Linked DNA regions of Homo sapiens: region 2 is linked to region 1. The links come from fine-mapping of genetic effects on gene expression. A gene starts in region 1. The other region holds a variant in brackets. All regions are shown on one strand. Distances are from middle to middle.

Region 1 (4,000 bases):
GCCAAAACCTTCATTGAGAACTAAGAAGAGAAAAACTGAAAACACACAGAGCTTTTTTTAAGCTTCTGAGCCAGCAGGCTGTTCCTACATCCACTCCAGGCATAGAAAGATGGCTGTAAAATAAAAGAGATGATTATCTCCTCCCTTCCCTTCTCAATATTTCACCCTAATGTCGGGTTCATTTCTGTGAGGTTCTACCCGAGTTCACTTTTCTATCAACCTGACATGTTTCCAAATTCACGAGGTATGCGTTTTTATATTGAAGCAATTGTTTGTTTACAGCCTTTTAATGTTCTGGTCATGGGTTATGTTAACCTATTACCCATATCTGATCAATAGACACCTCACCCTCTCCCCTCCCAGACCACACACCTCCACGCTTAAAAAGGGACAGGGAGGGCCAGGCACGGTGGCTCACGCCTGTAATCCCAGCACTTTGGGAGGCCGAGGCGGGCAGATCACGAGGTCAGGAGATCGAGACCATCTGGCTAACACGGTGAAACCCCGTCTCTACTAAAAATACAAAAAATTATCCGGGTGTGGTGGCGGGCACCTATAGTCCCAGCTACTCGGGAGGCTGAGGCAGGAGAATGGCGTGAACCCGGGAGGCAGAGCTTGCAGTGAGCCGAGATCGCGCCACTGCACTCCAGCCTGGGCAACAGAGCGAGACTCCGTCTCAAAAAAAAAAAAAAAAAAAAAAGGGGGGGGGGACAGGGAGAAGAACTAAAGCTCAGGCTACTATGATAATTAGGGATGAAAAAGCTACATTCACTTAGGATTATCAAAAGCCAGGAAAGATATCTATAGAATTACAAATTAATCGGGCCTGGCGCAGTGGCTCACGCCTGTAATCCCAGCACTTTGGGAGGCCCGAGACGGGCGGATCACCTGTGGTCAGGAGTTCGAGACCAGCCTGGCCAACATGGCGAAAAACCCCGTCTCTATTAAAAATACACAAATTAGCCGGGCGTGGTGGCGGGCGCCTGTAATCCCAGCTACTCGGTAGGCTGAGGCAGGAGAATCACTTGAATCCGGGAGGCGGAGCTTGCAGTGAGCCGAGATCATGTCATTGCACTCCAGCCCGGGCAAGAGCGAAACTCCCGTCTTAAAAAAAAAATAGAAAAGAAAAGAAAAGAAGAATTACAAATTAATCACCAAGAACAGAAATAGTGTAAAAACAAAGATGTAATTCAACTGTTTAGAGTGCAGAGATAATTGGAACTAAAAGAGCAAGAAAAGCGGGAAACATATGTACCTATAAACCTAATCACAAACCTGTCACAAAAACTACGAGTAAACGAGTCGAAGTTGAAAATGAGTTTTTGTGAATCAGAGTCTGATTTGACTTGAATTTACTAAGAAAGAATAAGAAAGGTGTAGAACATTCCAGGACATCTCTATCCCACCGCAAAACAAAAAAGAGCCATCAACCCACCACAAACGTGCAGCGTGAGACTGGAAGATACACTAGTCACCCAGTCACTGAAAACAACCTTTGAAACATCTTTATTTTTCTTTCCAAATAAAAAAGAGCCTAGGTCAGTAAACTAAGTATGAGAATAATTTTCAAAATTCCAGTCCTAACCACACCGGATGATTCTGGCTAACGTATGCCTCAGTTTCCCCCGTGCTAAAATGCAAACACACCGGTGTTCCGAGTCTCGGGCCTGGATCCGAGCCCGGGTTCTGCACCTGGATCTGAATCTTAAAGGGAAAACCGCAAGTTAAACCTGAGGAGGAGTCTGCAGCTGTCCCGGTGCCAGAGCCAGCCAGGCTCTTTTTAGAAAGCCCCCCGCCTCAGGCGCGGTTTTCGTAAAACCGCTCCCGGCTGCCAGCGCGGTGGATTCCGGCTGGCGCCCCGAACACCTGAGGTGGCCTCGGCCGTCTAGGGGCGGCCGCACCGGAGGACGCAGCCGACCTCCCCGCCCCGCCGCGTCCCCGGCCCCCATTCCAACGGCGACGCGAGCAAGGTCGGCCCGGCGGCTCTCCGGCCCGAGGCGGTGCTTCTCTCGTGGGCGCCTTCGGCCCATACGACCCTCGGTCGGACAGTCCGACCACAGCCGCCCCGCAGCCCCCGCCTGAGGGGAACTTGTAGGCGCCGGTGGGTCTCCGCTGACTCCCGCCCCGCACTCACCTGCCCCACGGGCCACCTCAGCGCCAATCCGGGTCGGGTTAGCAGCTTCCCCACTCGCACCCAGTCAGCGCTCAGCGGCGCCTAAGCGCACGCGTGGCGGGGCGTGGCATGGGCGGCCGCGGGTCATGCTGGGGGCTGTAGTCGTTCCCGCCCACTAGGCGGGGCGCGTCCAGGGGCTTTGCGCCCCCATCCCAAGGCCAGCATGCATAGCGATGATTTCTTCGTCTGCACCGCAGCCTGAGAAGCTTGGGACAGTATGGTGTGGACCAGCAGTCAGGGTGGTGGGAGATAGACGCTGCAAATAACTTGCTAATTTTTTTTTTTTTTTTTTTTTGAGATGGAGTCTCGCTCTGTCACCCAGGCTGAAGTGCAGTGGCGTGATCTCGGCTCACTGCAACCTCCACCTCCCAGGTTCAATCAGTTCTCTGCCTCAGCCTCCCGAGTAGCTGGGATTACAGGCGCCCGCCACCACGCCCAGCTAATTTTTTTGTATTTTTAGTACAGTATTTTTAGTAGAGACGGGGTTTCACCATGTTGGCCAGGCTGGTCTCGAACTCCTGACCTCAGATGATCTGCCCGCTTCAGCCTCCCAAAGTGCTGGGATTACAGGCGTGAGCCACCGCGCCAGGCCGGAAAACGAAATTTTCTGAGTACCTTCTGTGTCAGATTCTATGCTGTGCAATTCCCATCTCACCAACCCTCACATCCACCTAGGCTTCATATCACCTTTCTAGGGACTCCTAACCCTCGTGCTTCCACTAAAGCTGTGTTTACAAACATCAGGCTCTCCTGGTTCTTAAATGAAACTGAGCATCAGCCAGGGAAAGAGGGCATTAAGTGTCCAGGTGTCTGACTTCAGCTGAGCAGACATTTCATCAGTTGCCCCAAGTTCTGCCCAGAACCTGACATCTGGGTAGTTCTGATGCTGGAGTCCGTGTGAATTTAAACCAATCTTAAAGAAAATACAACAGCCTGGGTTAACAGAGTGAGACCCTGTCTCTACAAAAAACAACAAAAAATGAACCACGTGTGGTTGTGTGTGCCATAGTCCCAGCTACTCAAGAGGCTGAGGTGAGAGGATCGCTTGAGCCCAGGAAATCAAGGCTGCAGTGAACTGTGGTCATGCCACTGCACTCCAGCTTGGGCGACAGAGCAAGATCTTGTCTATATATATATATAAAAGATAGATATATGAATGTATATTATATATAATATATATGAATGTATATTATATATAATATATATGAATGTATATTTTATATATATACATAAATGTACATTTAATATATATATGTTTTCCAGTGAACACGCAGACCACCCATCAAATTAAAATGTTACATGGGAAAATCAGATTACAAAGTTGCATACAAGTATGTAAATACAAAAATAAAGGAGAATGGAAAAGGAAAGAAGACAAGAGATGCACCAACAAATCCACCCATTCAAATAGTCCAGGAAGAAACCAGGTCAAATCGCCAATCACTGGAGATCATTAGTCTAACAGAATTGTTAGGACAGGAACAAGACTGTTATTTCCTTATTTTCTATGAGGAAATGTATTAACTAAAATCCATGGTATCCTATATCCCCAGTATCTGTTATGTAATATAAATTCTCACATTACAGATAAACTGATAGTAGTTGCTGCCTCCAAGTTGCCCATAGCAGAGAAGGAAGTAGACAGAATATCTGGTCAGAGTCCCATGACTTAATTTCCTTGTGTCAGACTTAGTATCCTTTCAAGATTTTTTCTGTTTTGTTTTTTCAGATGGAGTCTCGCTCCGTTGCCCAGGCTGGAGTACAGTGGCATGATCTTGGCTCACTGCAACTTCTGCCTCCCAGGTTCAAGCAATTCTCCTGTCTCAG
Region 2 (4,515 bases), 46 kb before region 1:
GATGCTGTTGGCTCAGGTGGTGGGGGGCATTGCACCCTCCAGGCTGCTGGAGGATTAGGGTAGTTGATGCATCTGCAGTGGCCCATGGGGCCCAGACTGCCCTTCTGCCTGGACCCAGTGCCCTGTGTCCAGCTGCCCCTGGCCTCCCTGACTCTTGACTGCCTTGCAGGTGGCAGAGCTGAAGCAGGAGCTGAAGTTGCGATCACTGCCTGTCTCGGGCACCAAAACTGAGCTGATTGAGCGCCTTCGAGCCTATCAAGACCAAATCAGCCCTGTGCCAGGAGCCCCCAAGGCCCCTGCCGCCACCTCTATCCTGCACAAGGCTGGCGAGGTGGTGGTAGCCTTCCCAGCGGCCCGGCTGAGCACGGGGCCAGCCCTGGTGGCAGCAGGCCTGGCTCCAGCTGAGGTGGTGGTGGCCACGGTGGCCAGCAGTGGGGTGGTGAAGTTTGGCAGCACGGGCTCCACGCCCCCCGTGTCTCCCACCCCCTCGGAGCGCTCACTGCTCAGCACGGGCGATGAAAACTCCACCCCCGGGGACACCTTTGGTGAGATGGTGACATCACCTCTGACGCAGCTGACCCTGCAGGCCTCGCCACTGCAGATCCTCGTGAAGGAGGAGGGCCCCCGGGCCGGGTCCTGTTGCCTGAGCCCTGGGGGGCGGGCGGAGCTAGAGGGGCGCGACAAGGACCAGATGCTGCAGGAGAAAGACAAGCAGATCGAGGCGCTGACGCGCATGCTCCGGCAGAAGCAGCAGCTGGTGGAGCGGCTCAAGCTGCAGCTGGAGCAGGAGAAGCGAGCCCAGCAGCCCGCCCCCGCCCCCGCCCCCCTCGGCACCCCCGTGAAGCAGGAGAACAGCTTCTCCAGCTGCCAGCTGAGCCAGCAGCCCCTGGGCCCCGCTCACCCATTCAACCCCAGCCTGGCGGCCCCAGCCACCAACCACATAGACCCTTGTGCTGTGGCCCCGGGGCCCCCGTCCGTGGTGGTGAAGCAGGAAGCCTTGCAGCCTGAGCCCGAGCCGGTCCCCGCCCCCCAGTTGCTTCTGGGGCCTCAGGGCCCCAGCCTCATCAAGGGGGTTGCACCTCCCACCCTCATCACCGACTCCACAGGGACCCACCTTGTCCTCACCGTGACCAATAAGAATGCAGACAGCCCTGGCCTGTCCAGTGGGAGCCCCCAGCAGGTACCTGGGTATGGGAGGAACCGGGCAGGGCCCAGAGGAGGGTGGGAAGAGCGTCTCGCTACAGCCCTCTTGGGCCAGGGGACCCCTCGTGCTGGACATTTTGTGTTTGCTTCATTTAATCTTCCTTCACCAGGGGGGTACTGAGACTTAGGAAAGTTAAGGGACCTGCCTCAGACCCCCTAGCTGTAGGGCGGAGCCATTGGTGAGCTCCCCACCTCTCTGGCTGTTGAGACTAGAACATTTCGGCACCTCAGCAGCAGGACTCCTGAGCAGCCCGTACCCAGGCTGGGCCTGCCCTAGTGCTGCTCTGTGGGGAGTGGCCAGTGAAGGTCAGAGGTAGCCTGCCCCGGGGAGAGGCTGTGGGGTCCTCTGGCCAGGATCCAGCTCAGGGTCCTCTCCTCAGAGAGGCTAGCTGTCCCCACCAAGGTGTCAGCAGCGGAAAGCTCCCTCAGCAGACCCTCTCTCAGCCCAGGCCACAGGTGAGGCTGCCCTAAGGCTTTATGTAGCCTCGTGGTCCTGCAGAACTTGGGGGTAGAGAAGACAGTGACAGGAACAGGTACCTCAGGATAGGAGACAGGGGTCCCTGAGCAGCCCCAAGCAGAGAAAGAAGCTGCAGAAATCTCAGGGGGTGACCAGCCCAGCCCAGAGACCTCTCCCAAACCTCAAGGGGCCAGGCACCCCCTGCAGGGTTGAGGGCCCCC[C/G]ATCCTGTATTCCTTCCTACCTAGTGGCTTTCATGAAAGCTCCCTAAAAGCCAGTGCCTCCCATCTTCCCTCCTAGAGTGTGAGAGGCCCTGGCCCTATCCCCGCCCCCCGCCCCCTACAAGGCAGGTCTGCACCCCCAGCCCCCTGGCCACTGGTCCTCTCCCTGCTCTCCTGTCCAGCCCTCGTCCCAGCCTGGCTCTCCAGCGCCTGCCCCCTCTGCCCAGATGGACCTGGAGCACCCACTGCAGCCCCTCTTTGGGACCCCCACTTCTCTGCTGAAGAAGGAACCACCTGGCTATGAGGAAGCCATGAGCCAGCAGCCCAAACAGCAGGTGAGGAAGGCGGGCTAGGCCTGGCTAGTGTTGGCAGCTGCCCTAGGCTGCTGGGCTGAGGCTCCTACAGCCCCACCCGGAGGAATAGGGGGCAGGCGAAGCCCAGCTTCAGGGTCAGAGAGGCCTTGGGGAGTGGGTTGTTAGGGGACGGGCTCCAGGAGTCCGGGCACGCCCATGGGTCCTGTGGATCTGGCTGCTTATTCTGGGGCAGAGGGAGGGGCCTCATTCGTAGTTCGGGCTGGGAGCCCCCATTCAAGATTTTTATCTCTTTTTTTTTTTTCCTTTGTCCCACAGGAAAATGGTTCCTCAAGCCAGCAGATGGACGACCTGTTTGACATTCTCATTCAGAGCGGAGGTAACCCCAGGTCCCCTGCTGCCTCCCTGACGGCCTTCTCTGTTCATAGGTGTCTCTAGCCCTGGGTTGGTTTGTTTTTATTGAATGCTTCCGTGCGTGACCAGTCTTGGGCAAGCACTGTGGATGCAGTGGTGGCTGTGAGCCCTCCCGTCTCCAAGGCCTGGGCGAGAGGACCAGGGAAGGTGCCGTCCTTCAGCTGGAAGCACTGCCCCAAGGCCCTCGCCTCCCAACGAACAGAAGAGACATTTGCCCTTGTGGAGCTCACAGTGCAGCCTGGGGAGGTGGACAACAAATATAAGAAATAAGCAGATCATATGGAAGATCCGAGAGGAGCCTTAGGACAAAAATGGAGGAGAGGGAGAGGTCTGGGGAGCCTGGTGGGGAAGGTCCAGGATGTCTCCTGTGAGCAGGGGCAGCTGTGTGCATCTGTGCGGCCTCGGGAGTACCTGGCGGGTTGGAGTGGAGTTGAGGAAAGGGGAAGAAGGCCTTCATGGCCAGATCATGCGTGGCCTCCTGGGCACCAGGGCAGGGTGGCTTTGGCTCCATTGTGTGGGAAGCCATCGCACAGCCTTGAGCAGAAAAGGCCTGGTCTGATGCAGGACCCAGGCGATAGTAGCCGTGCAAGGGCAGAAGCAGGGAGCCCCAGGTTGGGGGGCGACTGGAGAGCTGGGCTTTGGCCCAGCAGGCAGCAGTGGCGGGCAGAGGAGCGGCTGGAATCAGCCCCATTTGGAGAGAGCCAGGTTGGTGTCTTTATGGATGAAGTGGGGGGAGAGGGAAGGAACAGCCAAGGATGACTTCAAGGGCTGTGGCCTAAAGGGCCAGGGTGGAGTGGCCATTGATGGGGTGAGCTGGGGAGGGGGCACGTGTGGGACCACATTGCGCGGTCCCTGATGGGGTGTGTCACGAGACCGAATGGAGGGTTCACAGGGACAGTTGACATCAAGTGGCATTTGTGAGAGAGGTCTGGGCTGGAGGTAGGAGTTGGAGTGTTGTCACATCTAGATTGGCAGTTGGAGCTGGGAGGCTGCCGAGGGTGTGAGGTGGGGGAGCAGAGGTTGGGGCTAAGCCCAGCCTTGGGGGTCGGGAGGACAAGTAGTGGCAGGGTGCGGTGTCCTGGAATCCAGCCGTGACCAAGGGAGCTGAGGACCGAGGCCTGGACACGGAAGGTAGGCATCATGGGCACAACAGGAAGTCCATGAGAGGCCTGGGAGCAGGGTGGGGGTGGCCGTAGAGAGCTCTCTGGGAGGTTCCCCTGCAGAGGGGAAGAAGGAGGTAGGGCAGATGCTGGGCAGGAAATAGCGCGCGTCTGTGTGAGGGGACCCAGCTGGGAGTAGAAGATCCCAGATGACCCCGAGATGGTCCTGGGGAGGAGCTCACTGGCGGCAGCAGGCAAGAAGTCTGGGCCTGTGGTGCCGATGCTGGGTGGTGAGCGTGGACTTCTCTTTGAGTGTCTCAGTGGCTTCAGGAGGAGGAGGAGCGGCTGAGGGGTGCAGGCAAAGTGGGAGCTCAGCCTGGAACCACAGCTCTACCAGAGTAGATGTGATGTTGTGTGAATTTTATTTCAATTTAAGACAAGAGCTCAGTCACTGGTGTTCCTGTGAGGTCTGTAATTCTCAAGCCCTAGGGAGAATCCCTGGGTCCCTGGGGTCTGAGGCGCATCTCTCACCAGTGCAGGTGGCACTGAGGCGGCAGGTATGGGACCCGCTGTGAGGACGGCTGGGCTGGGCGCTCAGGAGCGAGGCCTTGGCGTGAGCTTCAGGAGGTTCCAAGGGAAGGAGGTGCTACCCCAGAGATATTGTTCAAGAAGGAAAAGGGAACAGGCTTTGAACTCTAGCTTCTAAGGGATGGCAGAGAAAGGGAGATGGTGGGTGTGGGTGCTGCCTGCCGCCAAAGGGACACTGAAAAGTGGCCCAAGAGGTGGCAGTGATGCCAGAAGCAGGTGTTTGA

Evidence for each region. PIP is the estimated chance that this variant, and not a neighbour inherited with it, causes the effect. A credible set is the group of variants that fine-mapping cannot tell apart.
Region 2: its variant is the best candidate, but not a certain one, in a credible set for the expression of SGSM3 in whole blood (TOPMed, PIP 0.63).

What each region holds. Positions count from the first base shown.
Region 1 is chr22:40,368,823-40,372,822 of GRCh38, reverse strand. SGSM3 (small G protein signaling modulator 3) reads right to left here and starts at 2,229. Exons shown (of 22, transcript NM_015705.6): 1 at 2,135-2,229. ADSL (adenylosuccinate lyase) reads right to left here. Exons shown (of 13, transcript NM_000026.4): 13 at 3,456-4,000. RefSeq lists silencers at 1,844-2,013, 2,074-2,183 and an enhancer at 2,334-2,543.
Region 2 is chr22:40,415,039-40,419,553 of GRCh38, reverse strand. MRTFA (myocardin related transcription factor A) reads left to right here. Exons shown (of 15, transcript NM_020831.6): 12 at 170-1,180; 13 at 2,061-2,213; 14 at 2,508-2,568. Among named protein-coding and RNA genes, the nearest start is that of SGSM3, 47 kb to the right of the region's middle. RefSeq lists enhancers at 2,664-3,163, 3,869-4,268. The variant C/G (reference allele first, on the strand shown) is at 1,882.